Regions from separate parts of the Homo sapiens genome. Here region 2 is linked to region 1. The links come from fine-mapping of genetic effects on gene expression. A gene starts in region 1. The other region holds a variant in brackets. All regions are shown on one strand. Distances are between the middles of the regions.

Evidence for each region. PIP is the estimated chance that this variant, and not a neighbour inherited with it, causes the effect.
Region 2: its variant is the best candidate, but not a certain one, in a credible set for the expression of ZNF25 in whole blood (INTERVAL, PIP 0.80).

What each region holds. Positions count from the first base shown.
Region 1 is chr10:37,973,510-37,978,897 of GRCh38, reverse strand. It overlaps ZNF25 (zinc finger protein 25), which reads left to right and starts at 2,251. Exons shown (of 6, transcript NM_145011.4): 1 at 2,251-2,392. It overlaps ZNF25-DT (ZNF25 divergent transcript), which reads right to left and starts at 2,143. Exons shown (of 6, transcript XR_930830.4): 1 at 1,893-2,143. RefSeq lists enhancers at 2,008-2,237, 3,278-3,367 and a silencer at 2,278-2,687.
Region 2 is chr10:37,580,535-37,585,922 of GRCh38, reverse strand. No RefSeq gene overlaps it. Among named protein-coding and RNA genes, the nearest start is that of LINC00993, 270 kb to the right of the region's middle. The variant G/A (reference allele first, on the strand shown) is at 2,492.

The sequences.
Region 1 (5,388 bases):
CATCTGATATGAATTTATGGTTTGTAGGGCATAACTCCTCAGACCCCTTAGATAGAAATTTGGATAAGATAAAAAAAATCAGAGTTTAGTCTTCAGTTCCTTGCTATTCCCTGAGGTTGTTTCCTGAGGAAGTTAAAAATTATTTTATCAAGTAAAACAAAACTAAGCTCCCCGTTAAGATTTTTTAATTTAAATTTTGATTGAAATTGTGTTAAATTTTATAGTTTCTCTAAGGGTAAATATAAATATAAAAATTTGGGCTGGGCGCAGTGGCTCACGCCTGTAATCCCAGCACTTTGGGAGGCTGAGGCAGGTGGATCACGAAGTCAGGAGCTCAAGACCACCTTGGCCAAGATGGTGAAATCCCGTCTCTACTAAAAATACAAAAAAAATTAGCCAGGCGTGGTGGTGGGCGACTGTAATCCCAGCTACTCAGGAGGCTGAAGCAGAGAATTCCTTGAACCTGGGAGGCAGAGGTTGCAGTGAGCCGGGATCATGCCACTGCATCCCAGTCTGGGTGACAAAGCCAGACTCTGTCTCAAAGAAAAAAATAAAACAACTGAATTTTCCTTCTTGCAAAAAGGGAAAAAGACCTTTACTCCTCTCTTTTCTTACAGCATTTCCTTAAGAAAACTTGTAATTGTAAATCCCTTCTCTGTCCCTGTGAGATATAGCAAAACTTTTTAAAAAGTAAATAAGCTTCTTGCTAGTTTAACAACCCAGGAAGGTCTTTCTTAATGGCCTTGGGTCATGTCTTTGAAATGTAAGCATCAAGGAAGATTGCACCCCATCTCCCTGCCTCTGTGGTAAACTCCTAGGCTCCTGGCTACCCGCGGTTAACTACCTGCGTGTCATAGAGATACCAGAAACTTTACTTTTCATTTGCATAATGGCAATTAACTAACACTGATGGCTACCCTAATTATCAGGTGAATTTCAGATGAATTATGCATAGCAAATGTTGCTGTACAGTCATCTTACTTGAGGACAAGTTATTTTTACCTTGAGGAAATAGAATGCGTTGTACCAGACCGGCTAATACAAAAAATGATAGTTCTTCCTGTCTTCATAAACTCATTAGTGGGTTGCCTGTGACGCACATCGCAGTCTGGTTTAATGTTTATTCAATAATGTAACTGTTTTGTTCTTTTCTCCATCTGTGGAGAGAATTTTCTGGGTTGGCAAGAGGCTTTATTTTAAATTATTTCCTCAATACTTCCCATCCAGAAAGGTGGTGTGTGTGTGTGTATTATGTGCGCATATTTTTATATGTATATATATGTGTGTTTATACACATGACAATATATACGTTTTTTTCTAGATGATTCTACATGTTTTAATGTAATAAAGTTATTGACCAGGAAATATATAATTTGTTTTACATATACAGCCAAGTCCTCTCTCTGTATCCGCGGGGGATTAGTACCAGGACCTCCCTGGATTACTCAAATCCAGGGATGTTCAAGTCTCTGGTAGAAAATAACCTGATATTTGCATAACCTACACACCTCCTCCTGTATATTTTAAATTATGTCTAGATTAATTGTACACCTAACACAATGTAAATACTATGTAAATAGTTTTATTGTATTGTTTAGGGTATAATGACAAGGGGGAAACTTTGTACATGTTCAGTAAGATAGAATTTTTAAGTATTTTCATTCTGAGCTTAGTTGAATCCATAGATATGCACCCCCAGGATAAGGAGGGATGACTATATATATTCCTTAGTGAAATGATAGTCATGATACTCTATACCATTAGGTTAAAATTTGTGTAAATTCATGAGAAGGATGTTCACCTAACATTAAGCGCTTTTGCTTTTGGGAAGTGGTATACTCGTTTTCTGTTTTAGCTTATACATATTTTGTAGTTTATTACGTTTCGCGTACCGTTTGCACAATTGTGAAAGCTAGCATTCCTAAGAGGAAGCGGTTACAGGGCATTATCCTTCATTACTCCACGTACTCCTGTACCCACGGAGTTCAATCACTTTAACAAAACTGCCCATCAGTGTTCCTTGGAGCACCTCACGGTGGATTTCTGTCTTCAAGCCCAGACGTGCAGGGTGCAGCTCTCCGGCCATCACTGAGCAAGGACAGCGCCCTCTCCCGGAAACCCGACAGCAATCACTCAGGCCGCTGGAGGCGGCCGCGCCTCACGACGTCATCCAAGATGGAGTCGCAGCCGGGCCTTCTGGGAAGCGTAGTTCTGGAGTAGGGCTAGGGAAACGTTCTGCGCATGTGCAGTGTCTTCTTTCTGGCATTGGCGTTTTTTTGGTCTTACGCCCTAGGGTGGGGAGAGGACTCCGGTGCCTCCGGGTCTGGGCTGGGCCGCAAAGGGCGGGGCCTGGGCCCGGCGCGGGCCGGGAGCAGAGGCCGAGACCCTGCAGGTGTGTCGAAGGCTTTTGCGGGCGGGCAGGGCCTGGGAGGCGGGGTCTCGAGCCTGGAAGCCGCCTCCTGGCCCCGGAGCGGCCTCCGCGGAGGGCCCTGGGTGGGAGCCGCCTGGTGGGGAGGTTGGCTGGCTGCGCTGGCGCCCCTGCCCGGAATGGCGTTTGCGCGACCTGCTTGAGGGGCGGCCAGAGGAGGCCTGCGGTGCTGGGCAGTGGGCGCCCGGAGCAGCCGCATTGTGTGACGTGACCGGAGCCGCCATGTGAGGCGCGCTGGCCGCTGCAGACGCGGCGCTCCAAAGCCGCAGGGACGTGGGCTCTGGTCCAGCGTCTGTAGGTGGTCCCAGTGCGGCTCGACGCGCATCTGGCAAATGATGGGGGCCTTTGGGTACTGAATAGGGTAATAGATGTAAAGTATGATACAGGACTCAATAAAGGTGAGCTGCTTCTATTATTACAAAACATGCTGTTTTCATTATTGGCTCATTTAATCATCGTAACCATCCTTTCGACTTAACCATCTCTATTAAAATAAATGTGACTATTAAAGATTCAGAGAGAGAAATCCGTTTACCCACAGTATTAGCAGGTGGGATGTAAATCCTCACTTTTTCCTCTGAGTTAATGCGCCTTGCCACACTAAAATCCAGTCTTGACTTGTATTTAGCACAGCATTTGCCCCTTGAGCACCACCAGAACGTAGCTGTGTGGTGTACTTGAACCCAGTCTCAACCAGGTAGTGTTCTGTTTCCAAAAATGCTTGGGGAATCTTCAGAGCACTTGAGTCAAAAGGTGAATTATTTAAGGCCTTCCTGCATCCTCCAACCTTAGTCTCTTCTCAGAGGACTGTGAAACGTGTAAATTGAAACCACAATTTGAGCCCTCAATTTTGCATTTTACAGGAGAAGCTGGGAATCCCATCCAGCCCAGAGGCTAGTTTCTAAAGACAGGAAATGGGACAAAAAATTTTTTTAAAGATGAAAACTGCAGTTCATCAGTTCCTCCATTTTATGGTGGTGATCTTATAATGCCTCTCATTGGCTGATAACTGAGCTTAGGCATTTCGTAAGCACCATGCTAGCTGGAAGTGGTTTTTGCTGCTTATTTTAGTTTTTTTTTTTGGTACATAATGTACATATTTGTGGGGTACATGTGATATTTTGATATATGCATACAATGTGTCATGATCAAATCGGGGTAATTACAATATCCACCGCCTCATTTATCATTTCTTTGTGTTGCAAATATTCGAAATCTTCTAGCTATTCTGATAGCTAATAAATTATTGCTAACACTTGTAACCATACTGTGCTATTGAACACTAGGACTTAATCCTTCTACCTAACTGTATTTTTGTACCCATTAACCAACCTCTCTTCATTCCTCACTCCCTACTTCCCTTCGCAGCCTCTGGTAACCATCATTCTACATCGTATCTTCATGAGATCAACTATCTTAGCTCCTGCGTATGAGTGAGAACATGATATTTGTCTTTCTGTGCCTGGCTTATTTCATGTAACATAATGCCCTCCAGTTCCATCTTTGTTGCTGCAATGACAAAATTTCCTTCTTTTTATGTCTGAATAATATTCCATTGTGTATATATACCACAATTTTCATTATCTATTCATGCATTGATGGGTACTTAGGTGGATTCTGTATCTAGACTATTGTGAATAGTGCTGCGATAAAAATGGGAGTGCAGAGATATCTTCAATATACGGATTTCCCTTCTTTTGGATATATATATAGCAGTGAGATTGCTAGATCATATGGTAATTCTGTTTTCAATTTTTTGAGGAACCTCCATACTGTTTTCCACAGTGGCTGTACTAGTTTACATTGCCACCAAGGTTGTATGAGGGTTCTCCTTTCTCTATATCCCAGCATTTGTTATTTTTTTGCCTTTTTTATAATAGCTGTTTTAAGGGGTAAAATGATATCCCATTATGGTTTTGATTTGCATTTGTCTGATGATTAATGATGTTGAAGATTTTATCGTATACCTATTGGCCATTTGTATGTCTTCTATTGTGGAATGTCTGTTCAGATCATTTGCTCAATTTTTTTAAATCAAATTTTTTGTTTTCTGACTGTTGAGTTCCTTGTATATTCTGGTTATTAATTCCTTGTCAGATGGGTAGTTTGCAAATATTTTCTCCTATTCTTTGGGTGTCTTTTCACTGTTATTGCTTACTTTGCTGTGCTGAAACTTTTTCGTTTGATGTAATCCCATTCATCTATTTTTGCCTTTGTTGCTTGTGCTTTTGAGGTCTTACCAAAAAATTTTTGCCGAGAACAATGTTCTGAAGCATTTCCAAATGTTTTCTTCAAGTAGTTTCATAGTTTCAGGTCATACATTTAACTCTTTAATCCACTATCATTTGATTTTTGCATATGATGAGAGACAGGGGTTTAGTTTCATTCTTCTGCGTATGGATATCCAGTTTTCTCAGCACCATTTATTGAAGAAACTGTCATTTCTCCAATGTATGTTCTTAGTGCCTTTGTCAAAAATGAAATTGGCTATAAATGCATGTATTTATTTCTCAATTCTCTTTTTCATTGATCTATGTGTCTCTTTTTATGCCAGTAACCTACTGTTTTGTTTACTATAGCTTTATAGTATATTTTGAAGTCTGGTAGTACAATGCCTCCACCTTTGTTCTTTTTGCACAAAATTGCTTTGGCTACTCGGGGTCTTTGGTGGTTCCATATAAATTTTAGGATTTTTTTTCCTATTTCTGTGAAGAATGTCATTGGTATTTGGATATGGATTGCATTTAATCTGTAGACTGCTTTTAGTACTATGGACATTTTAACAATATTAATTCTGCCAGTCCATGAGCATGGGATATCTTTCCATTTTAATATCATTCATCAGTGTTTTATACTCTTTTTTTTTTTTTTTTGAGACAAGGGCTCAGTTTGGTGCAATCTTGGCTCACTGCAACCTCTGTCTCCCAGGGTCAAGCGATTCTCCTGCCTCAACCTCCCGA
Region 2 (5,388 bases), 390 kb after region 1:
CCAGAATGTATCATCTCCACCCTAGGCATTGCTCTTGAGTTTTAGCAATATGGATTCATCTCCAACTCTTCAAATTTGCTACGTCCCAAACTGAGCTCATCAATTTCTGTGAACCTTCATGTTTTTCTGTATTCCTTATTGCCCCATTACCCCACAGACAAATAAAAAAGGCTTGCTTTCTTCCCACCCCATATTCTTATTTCACATCTAAACAATAATCAAGATTCAACCATTTACTTCCCAAATTATTTTTTGTAACATAATAGTTTTATTGAGATATAATTCACACACTGTATGATTCACCCATTTAAACTATGCAAGTCCTTTCTTAAAATATATTCACAAGTTGTGCCACTATCACCACAATCAACTTTCAAACATTTTCATCACTACAAAAAAGGAACACCGTACGTGAAAGCAGTCCCTCTCTATTTCTCCCCAAAGTGTCCAGCACCAGGCAACCACTGTTCTTTCTGTCTCTAAATGTTTCTATTCTGAAAGTTGTATATAAATGGAATAATACAATATATGGTCTTTTGTAATTGATTTCTTTCACTTAGCATAATATTTTTAAAGTCCATCCACGTTTTAGCGAGTATCAGTACTTTGGTACTTTTTATTGCTGAATAATATTCTACTGTATGGGCTGGGCATAGTGGCTCATGCTTGTAATCCCAGCACGTTGGGAGGCCGAGGTGGGCAGATTACTTGAGGTCAGGAGTTCAAGACCAGCCTAGCCAACATAGTGAAACCTGTCTCTATGAAAATACAAAAATTAGCCAGGCGTGGTGGCAGGCACCTGTAATCCCAGCTGCTTGGGAGGCTGAGGCAGGAGAATCGCTTGAACCTGGGAGATGGAGGTTGCAGTGAGCCGAGATCGTGCCATTGCACTCTAGCCTGGGAGACAAGAGCGAAACTCCATCTCAAAAAAAGAAAATAAAAACCACAATTCTACTGTGTGGATATTTATCCATTTATCAGCTGATAGAAATTTGAACTGTTTTCACATTTTGGCTATTAAGAATAATGCCAGACATTCTTGCACAGTTTGGGTGTGGACATATGTTTACATTTATCTTAAGTACATACCTAAACGAGGAAGTGCTGGGTCATGTTACCATTATCACTCTATTTTTAACCTTTTGAGAGATTGCCAGACTGTTTTCCAAAGTAACTGCACCATTTTACACATTTTCCAGCAGTCTACGAGTGTTCCAATTTCCCCACATCTTCACATACACGTGTGGTTGTCTGATTTTATTATACCCATCCTAGTAGGTATCAAATAGTAACTCATTATAGTTTTGGTTTGCATTTTTCTGATGGTTAACTATGTCTTGCATGTTTTCGGGTACGCATTGGTTGTTGTATATTTTCTTTGGTGAAATATCTATTCAGATCCTTTGACCATTTTTAAACTGTGTCTTTTGAATTTTTATTGTTAATTTGTAAGAGTTCTTTATATATTCTACCTACAAGTCACATATATATGTTTAGAAAATATTTCTTCCATTCTGTGGGTTGTCTTTTTACTTTCTTGATGGTAGCCTTTAAAACACACATTTTTAAAAACTGATGATCTAATGTATTTACTTTTTCTTTTGTTGCCTGTGTTTTTATTATCCTATCAAAGATGACTTTGCCTAGCCCAAGGTTATGAAGATTCACTACATTTGTTTTTGGAGTTGTAGATGTTTAAGCTCTTACACTGGGGCCTATGATCTACTTTGAGTTAATTTTTGTGCATAGAATGAGTCCCAACTACTTTTAAAATTTGTCTTCTCATTGCTAACCAAATGGTCACTTCTTTTGCCCAAGGCAATGTCCTTTCTGGCCTAGATTACCACATGAATCTTTTCATCGTTATCTTTGCTTTCCATCTGGGTCAGCTTCATTCTATGTTCTGAAACAATTAGTCTTTTTTTTTTTTTTGAGACAGAGTCTTGCTCTGTCGCCCAGGTTGGAGTGCAGTGGCACGATCTCGGCTCACTGCAAGCTCTACCTCCCAGGTTCACGCCATTCTCCCACCTCAGCCTCCCAAGTAGCTGGGACTACAGGCACCCACCACCAAGCCCAGCTAATTTTTTTGTATTTTTAGTAGAGACGGGGTTTCACTGTGTTAGCCAGGATGGTCTTGATATCCTGATCTCGTGATCCGCCCGCCTCGGCCTCCCAAAGTGCTGGGATTACAGGCATGAGCCACCGTACCCGGCCTAACAATTAGTCTTTCTAAAATACATACCTAAGTGTGTTACTCTCCATAGAGAAATCTATATTTATTTTCAAGACTGAGTCTTTCTATGTTGCCCTGCCTGAGCTCAAGTGATCTTCCTGCTTCCACCTCCTGAGTAGTTGGGAGTACAGGTGTGCACCAGCACATCCTGCTAGAGAAACATATTTTTAAAAATGCAGAGTATACCTTGGCTTTAGCCTTAGATATACAAACTCAAAAAGAAGAATTCTGTAATCAGATAGTCTCACATATCTGAGC[G/A]TTTGCTGTGTTCCTGCCTAAACAATTTGATTATAACTCTGGATGCTTGACTATTCTCTAAGATTTCAGAGTAACAAAGTGAAAATTCCACCCCAAATTATAAGAAAGGTGTAAAGAACTTTATTTTATTCTATTTATTTTTCTCTTGCATTTTTGTTGTCATTGTTTTTGACTAATATATATATCAAGAGGTTATACGAAAGGATTCTGACATCCATAAGTATTCATTTAAAACACAGGTATGTATAATTTTAAAAAATAACAAACAGGAATTTTTTATATTCTTAGATTTCAAATTATAAAATAAAGATATTAAGTAAATAATGAGAGATATATTTTGCCTTCAGAGTTGATCAACATCAACTTTGTACCCATGTGTCCAGTATTCAGTTTTGTAAACAGTGGGTCATAAATAAATTGGTTTCTAAGTGAATTAACAAAATGTGAGCTGCTAAGATAATATATTAAATTAGAACAAAATTATTAGTTATTGGAAATGCGAACTATTGTGGTATAGTTTAATTTCTCAATTAAAAATAAGTCTAAATTTAACCAGTGTATATATTAATAAATTCACTACTTATAAAAGTTTGAAAGATAATTTTGCAAAATCAGGAAGAATTACTGATCTATAGCTGTTTTAAATTGTTTCATATATCTTTAGCCTTTCATTAAAATATAATTTTAATGTTTTTGTATCCTAAAAAGGTTAAACTACATAATTCATGAATAAACTTAAATATTTATTTTAATAGCACTTAAATCTTGGTTTTCATCCAAGAAGTGATTGCAGACGGATTTACATGCTGACCTGACATATAAAACATTCTTATTGTAACTCACAGGCATCCAAGAAAGCTATGGGAAGTGAGAAAGAAATATTTTTATAAATTTTATTGGAACAAGCATAGCATTATGAACAATATGCAGTTTTCTCCTGGGAGCTTACCCATGAAACAGAAGCCTGTTCATTTTGCCCTCAATGCAGCAATGAAACTGTACAGGTGGTGAGGCAGTGACACATGCATGAATGGCCAGAGTGTTAGTGAGATCTGACCCAGAATGATCTTGCATATGAATCTGCCTTTCTCCAAAGAGAACCATGCAAGGCTTACAGCTGACATTTTACTTAATTCATGTTGTTGTCCACATTGGCCCTTTAGTACATATAAATTATTTTGTGAAATAATAGAAAAGGAAGAGCTGTGGATTAGTGGTCATAGCCAGGGAATTGAAAGTCAGAAGTGCATGCTCAGCTCTGACAATGGCTTTTTGTGTAGTAGTAAACAAGGTTCCTGACTTTAGCAATTAGGGTTACCATAGATTAACCGTGTACTATATTAATTTTCCTACCTTCTAATTTAGGGAAATTAAGTTCATTAAGTCATCAACATTTACTGAGCACTTACTATGTAGAAGACACAGACAAACTATGCTGAGGCATACGTTCTGGAAAGAAAATGTGTCTTGCGGCTTTGATATTCAAACATTTTGAGTGAAACAATTCGGCAATAAAATTTCTTTGGAATTTTAATAGGTCCAGCTTGGAAAGGCCCAATAATGGAATGATGGTTTGGCAGGAGCACCTCTCCAGCACTTTGTGAGTTTCCTGAATTCCACTAGTGCTTAGATTAGATTATGCAAAGCTGAGTTTGCAGCACTGGAGACCTGACATGGCATAAAAGGGTGTGGCAGATAACTTGGTCTAACCCCTCCTACAATCCCAACACGCTCAACAAAGTTGCTGGTATTGCCTCCTAAATGTCATAGGCAAATGGCACAGCGCATGGTGTGGGTCTGATCCCATCCTTACTATTCAAAGGCTACATGACCTCTGGCAAGTTAACCTGTGTCACAGTTTTCTCACCTATGAAAGGAACATCATAACAGTAATCTCACATGTTATTGTAAGAATTATATAAAATAACTGCCAGAATTTCAAAGGTTCAACAAATATTAGCCCCTTGGTGTCTTCCTCTGACCAGAAACATCTCAAAATGCTGCTGCTGCAATCATATAGTTACATGGAAATTACATTTTTCAGCCAATCCAGATCAGATTTAGTCCAATATCTATAGCTGAAAAAATGTAGGGAACTAAATATTAGAAAAGTCTGAGCTGAGAATCCTTGGCTCTTCCCTAGTTTTATTTGTGACTTTAGGAAATTAATTCAGTATCCTTTGGCTTCATGGAAGCCATACTTCCATGTGTGTCTAAGTGTGTTACTCTCCATAGAGAAATGTATATATTTATACATTGTTGGGATATAAAAATACTGGGGAGGAAAAGTTAGGGAATAAGGAAATCAATACTATTTCAATGCTTCTTGTATAGTTATTGGGTGAGTCAAATGAGTCATGGATATGGTTCAGAAAAAATAATGTGTTATTCATTTGCCATTTTAGTCTGAACAAAAATTAGAAAAAGGAGAGAGGAGAGAAAATCACGTTGAGTTGTATCCAATCATTCCCCGAAGAACAAATTTGCAAATTCATATTATGGGGAAGTTAGTTAAATATGTCCACCACCAATTTACACAGAAACAATCAGCACTTTGGGCATAAAACACAAGACTAGTTGTGCAAATCTCATCAGCCAGAACCTTCAGACTCAGAGCTGCCTATAAGAGTGAACAAGCATGGCATCTGCTTTCAAAGCTAAAAAAAATAAAAAAATAATAAATAATAATATATGAAACTTTGGATTTTTTTTTTTGAAACGGAGTTTCCCTCTTGTTGCCAAGGCTAGAGTGCAGTGGTGTGATCTTGGCTCACCGAAACCTTTGTTTCCCGGGTTCAAGCGATTCTCCTGCCTCAGCTTCCTGAGTAGCTGGGATTACAGGCGCACCGAGTAGCTGGGATTACAGGCGCACCACTACGCCCGGCTAATTTGTTGTA